2 linked regions of the Homo sapiens genome follow. The protein of the gene in region 1 interacts with the protein of each later gene in a pairwise test. Each region holds a gene or a part of one and is shown on either strand. Other genes may lie near its edges. The genes, in order: THG1L and ELMOD1.

Region 1 (3,824 bases):
ATACATAACTGGCCAGGTGTGATGACTCACGCCTGTAATCCCAGCACTTTGGGAGGCTGAGGCAGGCAGATGACTTGAGGTCAGAAGTTTGAGACTAGCCTGGCCAACATGGTGAAACCCCATCTCTACTGAAAATACAAAAATTAGCTGGGCGTAGTGGCCTGCACCTGTAATCCCAGCTACTCGGGAGTCTGAGGCAGGAGAATCACTTGAACCCAGGAGGCAGAAGTTGCAGTGAGCCAAGATGGTGCCATTGCACTCCAGCCCAGGCAACAGAGCAAGACTCTGTCCTAAAAAAAGAAAAAAAAATACAGAACCAAGGTATTAAAATAGTGTTTCTTAGCCAAATGCATTTTATCTCCTGGCTTTCTGGGCAGTTTGTGTACTCTCTGTGGTACCCACAGGTCTTATCATGGTGTTGAACTAATTCCGTGTATTTTTCTTTTTCTTACTCCACCCAATGTGCGTTACATTTTCAAGTAAGTTCATGACTCACGTGGCCTCCCAGTTTGCCTCCAGCTATGTGTTTTATTGGCGGGATTACTTTGAGGACCAGCCCCTTCTGTATCCCCCAGGCTTTGACGGAAGAGTCGTGGTGTATCCCAGCAACCAGACTTTAAAGGACTACCTCAGCTGGCGACAAGCAGATTGTGAGTGGCACCAAATAAACACATGTAGTTAAACCACCAATTCCATGTCTTACAGGTGTTGATCTGATACAGGATTGGCTCACATATACTTTGTTTCAACATATACGTTGTACAGAATGCAGTATTTAAATATTTTTTCAATTAGTTAAAAGTATTTGAAAAATTAAATTTTACGTAAAAACTCCTTATCTCTATTTTTTTTTTTTTTTAAGACAGAGTTTCGCTCTTGTTGCCCAGGCTGGAATGCAGTGGTGTCATCTTGGCTCACTGCAACCTCCACCTCCTGGGTTCATGGGATTCTTCTGCCTCAGCCTCCCGAGTAGCTGGGATTACAGGCATGTGCCACCACGCCCGGCTGATTCTGTATTTTTTAGTAGAAATGGGGTTTCTCCATGTTGGTCAGGCTGGTCTTGAACTCCTGACCTCAGGTGATCCACCCGCCTTGGCCTCCCAAAGTGCTGGGATTATAGGCGTGAGCCACCACGCCCAGCCGCCTTATCTCTATTTTTTAAAAAAATCAGATGTGGCAATACTGGATCTGCATTCTTACTTAGTACTAGACAAAGCCTGTTCAGTGGCAGCTACCTTTACACACACACACACACACAAATGCCAGTGTGCCATAGTCTCTGCCATTCCCTGTTGTTCCTCTGGGGTCACCCACTGCTTTACACATTTATGTTCATGCTGGCCTCAGTGGGTATTTGAATTGTGACCCTTGCCTTATGTGACTGTGATGATGTTTGTGAGGCTTTTACTTGCTTGTTCTAGTTTGAATTTTCCAGAAGAACTGGAAAAGAGATTGAAATAATATAAATCAAATAACTTCTAAAGTATTCCTAGGATTAACACACAAGTTAACAGATTTGTATAATGTGTAACTGAAATGACCAAATAAAACTGTTGTTAGGGATGAAGTTTTTTCCCTACTGCTCCTTCCCTCCATGTTCCGTGTGTAGGACTTCGGTCAAGTCACTGAATGTCTCTGAGATCTCTTTACTATGAAAGAGGAGAGGGTCAGGGCTCTAGTATTCCTTGAAGAATGAATATTCAATAAAGATTTTATGTATATAAACATTACTATTTTGTTCTCCTCACAGGTCACATCAATAATCTTTATAATACAGTTTTCTGGGCACTTATACAACAATCTGGACTAACACCAGTACAAGCCCAAGGGAGATTACAGGTATAAAGATCTTACTACATTAATACTTAACTGGGGACAGTTCGCTGTAGGCTCTCCCATAACTTTTTTTTTGTTAAATTTACATTTCTTTCTTTTAAGATCCCTGTACAGCTTTGTTTTGAAAGGATATAAAAATCATAATAGGAGCAGCTCTGCTGCCTGCTTGGTCTGTAATCCTGGATGAATTACTGCTTCTCCCTGAGCCTTTGTGTTCTTAGTGGAAAATGGAATTGACGGCACTGGCTCTGCATTCCCACGTGCTAACACTTGCCTGAAGCCGTGTATGACTGTGTATGACTGCCGTCTTCAGCACTGACTTTTTTTTTTTTTTTTGAGACACAGTTTCACTCTGTTGCCCAGGCTGCAGTACAGTGGTGTGATCTCAGCTGATTGCAACCTCCACCTCCTGTGCTCAAGCGATTCTCGTGCCTCAGCCTCCCAAGTAGCTGGGATTACAGGTGCATGCCACCACACCCAGCTAATTTTTGTATTTTTAGTAGAGACAGGGTTTCACCCCGTTGGCCAGGCTGGTCTTGAACTCCTGACCTGAAGTGATCTGCCTGCCTGGGCCTCCCAGAGTGCTGGGATTACAGGCGTGAGCCAGTGAGCCACCACACCTGGCCAGCACTGAATTTTTGTCAGTCCCACCACGCCTCTTCCCTCATTGCCATTTTCCCTGCTGGGCACCTGTAGTTTCTTGGGTTTATGACCTCTGTGTATAGGAAGAGTTCGTGCTGAGTTTGTTACTTTCATAAATGTCATAATAACTACTCACATCATGCTTCTGTGTAATTTTATCCTTTCTGCCTCAGTTCTTTATAGGTAAAATGTAGAAAATAGTAGTTTCTACCTCATAGGTTTATGGTGAGAATTAAATGGCATGATGCACGTAAAACACAGAATCGTATGAAGCACATTGTAAGTGCTTAATAAATACTGGTTTTTGTTATAACAGTGCTACTTGTAGGATGACTAACTGTGAAGTGAGGTAATGTGTTGTAACAGATCTTTTATTTGTATTTTATTTTATCTATTTATTTATTTTTTGAGATGGGTTCTTGCTATTTTCCCCAGGCTGGTCTTGAACTCCTGGGCTCCAGCAGTCCGCCCACCTCAGCCTCCCAAGTAGCTGGGATTACAGGTGCATGCCACTGTGCCCAGCTGTAACAGTTACTAATACAATGCCTGGTACATTATGTTTGCTCAATAAATGGTTGTCATTTTTAATAATAGTAATGATAGAGATTTTTATATAGCAATAATAGGAAAACTGGGGCCTGGTGTGGTGGTTCACGCATGTAATCCCAGCACTCTGAGGAGGCCAAGGTAGGTGGATCACCTGACGTCAGGAGTTCAAGACCAGCCTGGCCAACATGGTGAGACCGCTTCTCTACAAAAATTAGCTGGGTGTGCTGGCACACACCTGTAATCCCAGCGACTCAGGAGGCTGAGGCATGAGAATCGCTTGAACCTGGGAGGTGGCAGTTGCAGTGAGCTGAGATTGCACCACTGCACTCCAACCTGGGCAACAGAGTGAGACTTTGTCTAAAAAAAAAAAAGGCATACTGGTAGGTATATCCAGGTTTGGAAGAGTCAAGTTCAGATTTCAATTCTTCGTAGAAGAATAAGGACAACCTTTTAACCTTGGGGAATTTATATAACCTTTCTAAGTTTTACTGGACCAAATACATAATATGTATTCAGTTAGTATTAATTCTCCCCACTCCCTTTCAGTCTTGACTTGTGAAGCCAGTGTTTGGTATAGGAGAGAATTTTATCTAAGTAAGATCATAATTGCCCTTAAGATGAAAATTTACTAATAACTATAAGATGTTTGATAAAATCCTTCCACTTCTTGATTGTGGAAATTTAGGTTGTGGGTCGAATGGATAGTAGCACTAGGGGAGAAAGAAGACATGCAGAGCTTTTAATATCTATTTTTATTTTCTCAGGGAACTCTTGCAGCAGACAAGAATGAGATTTTG
Region 2 (3,824 bases), on another chromosome or scaffold:
ATTACTGATTATTTTACTACCAATCAATATCACTGTTAACATTTTTGTTGTGTATCCTGCTTTATACATTACTATTAAAATTTTTGTTTTATTTTTTAAATGAAAAGTGGATTATCCCATACATATTTCTTTTTAACTTTTTTCTACTTGATAAACATATCATGGATATTTTCATGTTATTAGATATTCTAGGACATAATCTTGTTGCCTGCAAAGTATTCCATTATGTTATCTCAGTGCAGCAGCTTGGTTGTTTTGTATGGTTTCTTTCCATTTCCTTTGCATTTATAAGATATAAACTCCATGCCTTTGTGCAAATCAGACTGTTCGAGTTTTTATTTTTAACACAAGGCTGTTGAAGCTATTGGAACCAGAGCAATTTAAGGAAAGGAACACGGTCAAGGTTTTGATTCTTTTTCAGGGATGGATCACATTGTAGAGGCTACTAGTTAACTACTCCAGTATATCTGAGTGACCATGCATCACCTTATTTTAGAACTGGAAGGAATTAGTGAACTTTTGAGAATAAAGAAAAATCTTTTCCAGATGACAACAAAAGGAAGTAATATAAATAATTCTGCCTCCTGGGGATGTACAGTATAAAGAGAAAATAGGTTGACTATATAAGTTCCCGGATAATAAGTCCTCTTTACCACTAAAGCTTAAGTCATTTGAAATTCTGAACCGTACCATGAAATAGTAGGCACTCACATTTTTAAAATTAAAAGTCATCATAAAAGATGGACTTACATGGGCCACAGATGTGTGAATAAGCACATGACTGGTGACAATATAGTTCATCATTTGTTGCGGTATTGCTGGAGTGAGGTAGGGTGTACAGTAAAGAAAACTTTCTTTAGCAAGAGCCAAGAACAAACTTCTCAAGAGGAGTTTTTGAAACATTTAAATCACGGAAGGTCGTCACGTCTAGGAAAATCAAAGGTCAAGGGTGCTTGTTCAGTGAACTGATGAGAAGGGCTTCTGACAAGGCCAGGGAATGTTAGGATAGGTCAGCAGAAAAGGCAGGTGGCCACAACCAAGTCCTCAAGGAGGTCTGCAATGCCTAAGGGAAAGCAGAGGGAAAGAGGAAAGAATGGGAGCAAGGGAAGGAATCAAACAGTGGGATTGGTCGAGGGTGAGGAGGACACTAGGGAGGGGCTGAAAATGGACAAGGGCAAGCTGAGAGGCTGTTCATGGAGGCAAAAGAGGAGAGCATGTTCTTCCCCCACGTCAAAGGGAGGGCTGACTCCTAAAACACAAGCAGTATTAAAGGATTCTGTTTTCAAGGTACTCATTTACTTCCAAGATGGTTTTAGGCAAAGGAGGGAAAAGAAAAGATTCTAATGCTTCATCCTCAGTTTGTTGGAATATCAGATTTACTAGAATAGAAAATTCTGGAGTTTCTTACAGTCATAGTAAGTGTAGCTACTGCAAATAAAGTAGCATGGGACTAGAAACATATGTTAAGTATAAGGTGATTTTTCTAACCCCTGATTTTCTCCTGGGCTTCTTTTCTTGCTGGTGGTGGCTGCTTTCTCTTCTCTTCCAGAGTTCTATTGGAAGGGTGCTGTGTTTTGTTTTTCACAGAATGTTGATCCAGGTATGCCTGTATTTTTACTGTAAATTTCTGTGGCGCTGCCTGAAATTTGTAATGAGGAAGCTAACTGGAAGATGTGAACTACAACGGATCTGTTATAATACCAAGCCGGGAGCTTCTAGAACCATGAAAATCGGTAAGCCTGAGACAAAGAAGTAAGCAAAAGGTAGAGTTGGTATGATGGAAGATACGATGTTGTCTTTCAGTGTAGTAATTCTAAACCATGTGTAAAGGATAATCTTTGAATGACTGTTTTTGTTGCTGCTTTCACAGAAACATCACTGAGGGATTCTAAAAGTAAGGTAAGTAAAATTATTTTTCAGCAGCTTTTTTTTCACTTGGAAGCTTACCTTTATCATAAGAAGTAAAAATTCTAAGAAACCAAAATATACCACTGGCTAGGAAAACTACTGCCAACTGAGAAGAAATAATCATTTGCCCATTACAAACCACTGTACTATTTACATGAGAACAGCCACTGTATGTGAATTTCTAGGCAGTTTGTGAAGTACTTATTACTTCATTGTCAAATGAACCCTTTCTTATACCTCTTCCCAAATCATAAAATAAATATTCCTTGAACATAGTAACAGTATTAACTCCCTACTATTTCCTCAATATCCAAATCATTTTTAACATTATACTTAAGATTTTTCAATAACATCAAAGAAGCCACTATGCTAGCTTTTGTAGCATAGTGGAGCATCCATATAAGAAAGAAAACCTATTTTCTTTTTCAAGATTCTTGATAATTTTATCTTATTAATTTTGACATCCTGAAGACTATCTCCCTCATGTGCCTCACTCTTTAGTCATAAACATAATACCCCTTAACAATAGAAACTATGTTGGGCGAGGAAATGAAAATATTACATTTCAATATAGGTAGCTTGAAACAGGAAAATGGTAAGAACAAAACCAAAAAAATTGTATGTGTTTTCCTGATTAAAGTTATCAGGAAAATTGCACTACCCCCCCCCCCATCGTGAAAATGTCAAATTTATTAGAATTCAAGTACGCTAAATCAATTGTTGCTTTTAACTTAAGTCTTCATATAGAAGCTTAAGCAAATGTTTGAAGCCTCTATCCCAGTAGATACTGATTAAGCCTCTGGTGTTAATGAAAAGGAAAGTGATTAAAACATGTTTTCCAGCTGTTGCAGACTTCTGTGAGTGTTCACCCCGACGCTATTGAAAAAACTATAGAAGATATCATGGAACTGAAAAAAATTAATCCTGACGTAAATCCACAGTAAGAATATGTTTCTTATGTCAAAAATACAGAACACAAATCACATGGCCACAGGTTTAGTGTTTCTCTGTCTCCTCTCTTTTTTTTTCTCCCTCTCTCCCTAAAATAATCATCTGCCATGTTTTGACTTTCAGATGAGGAATAAAGAAAAAAAGTACCTTTTTCATGTTTGTAAATGGCAGCAACTTTGTACTTCCTTTGTGGCTTATGCTTCTCAGATGCAAAGAATGTAAGAAATGTGTTGAGTGCCCCGATAGAGAAAGATGAACCCATTCATCAACAATCACTCTATCTGATGCCTATGTTTTACGCTAACAGTAAATGTTCAAATTGTAAATGTGCTTAAGCTGATTCTGTTCCATCTAGAATAGTCCTTCACTTCCTTCATGAATATTACTTTATGACAGGCTGAGAATCTTGGAGACTGTTTCTACCTGCTTGTCAAGAAGACAGGCATGTGTGGGAAGGAGAAATGGTTTTTATATGAAGACTTTAGAACTTCATAATTTATTCCTCTCATCTTGGAAGTATTAAAATGCATTTGGCAATGTTCGTGACATTTAAAATTAGCTTTATATTTTCCACTGGGTACAGCAATTTTTCAGTAAAATTTTGCACTGAGGACACTGGGTAGAATAAATTCCAAATGCAGATATATTTAGAGAAGGTTTTAGGTTGGTAACAATCAAACTGTCTTTTAGATGTTCGTGTCTGAGAACTTTAGATGTTACCTTTGAGAAAGGCTTTTATTAATAATTACAGGAACTGTAGCTGAAGGGAATTTCAGAGCACACTTGCGTAGGTCTATCTCTTGGAAGGATTTTGGATACTAGCTATCTAGGGGCTCATCACAAAACCTCCATTTTTGCCTGGTCTCTATAGCGTTCTTTAGCAGCCGCTTCAGTTCATTAGCTGCCTTTTGCCTATTCAGCTACCAAAGGTTGATTTACTTATATAGTAAAGGTCTTTTTGAAAC

Evidence for each region.
Region 2: the proteins of THG1L (region 1) and ELMOD1 interact in a two-hybrid assay, tested with the Homo sapiens proteins (one large-scale study listed by BioGRID and IntAct).

The regions. Positions count from the first base shown.
Region 1 is NC_000005.10:157,734,096-157,737,919, forward strand, and holds part of THG1L (probable tRNA(His) guanylyltransferase), read left to right. Parts: intron 1-480; coding exon 481-650; intron 651-1,750; coding exon 1,751-1,839; intron 1,840-3,791; coding exon 3,792-3,824. UniProt on the Homo sapiens protein: Adds a GMP to the 5'-end of tRNA(His) after transcription and RNase P cleavage. This step is essential for proper recognition of the tRNA and for the fidelity of protein synthesis.
Region 2 is NC_000011.10:107,628,830-107,632,653, forward strand, and holds part of ELMOD1 (ELMO domain-containing protein 1), read left to right. Parts: intron 1-1,587; coding exon 1,588-1,733; intron 1,734-1,870; coding exon 1,871-1,899; intron 1,900-2,750; coding exon 2,751-2,848; intron 2,849-3,824. UniProt on the Homo sapiens protein: Acts as a GTPase-activating protein (GAP) toward guanine nucleotide exchange factors like ARL2, ARL3, ARF1 and ARF6, but not for GTPases outside the Arf family.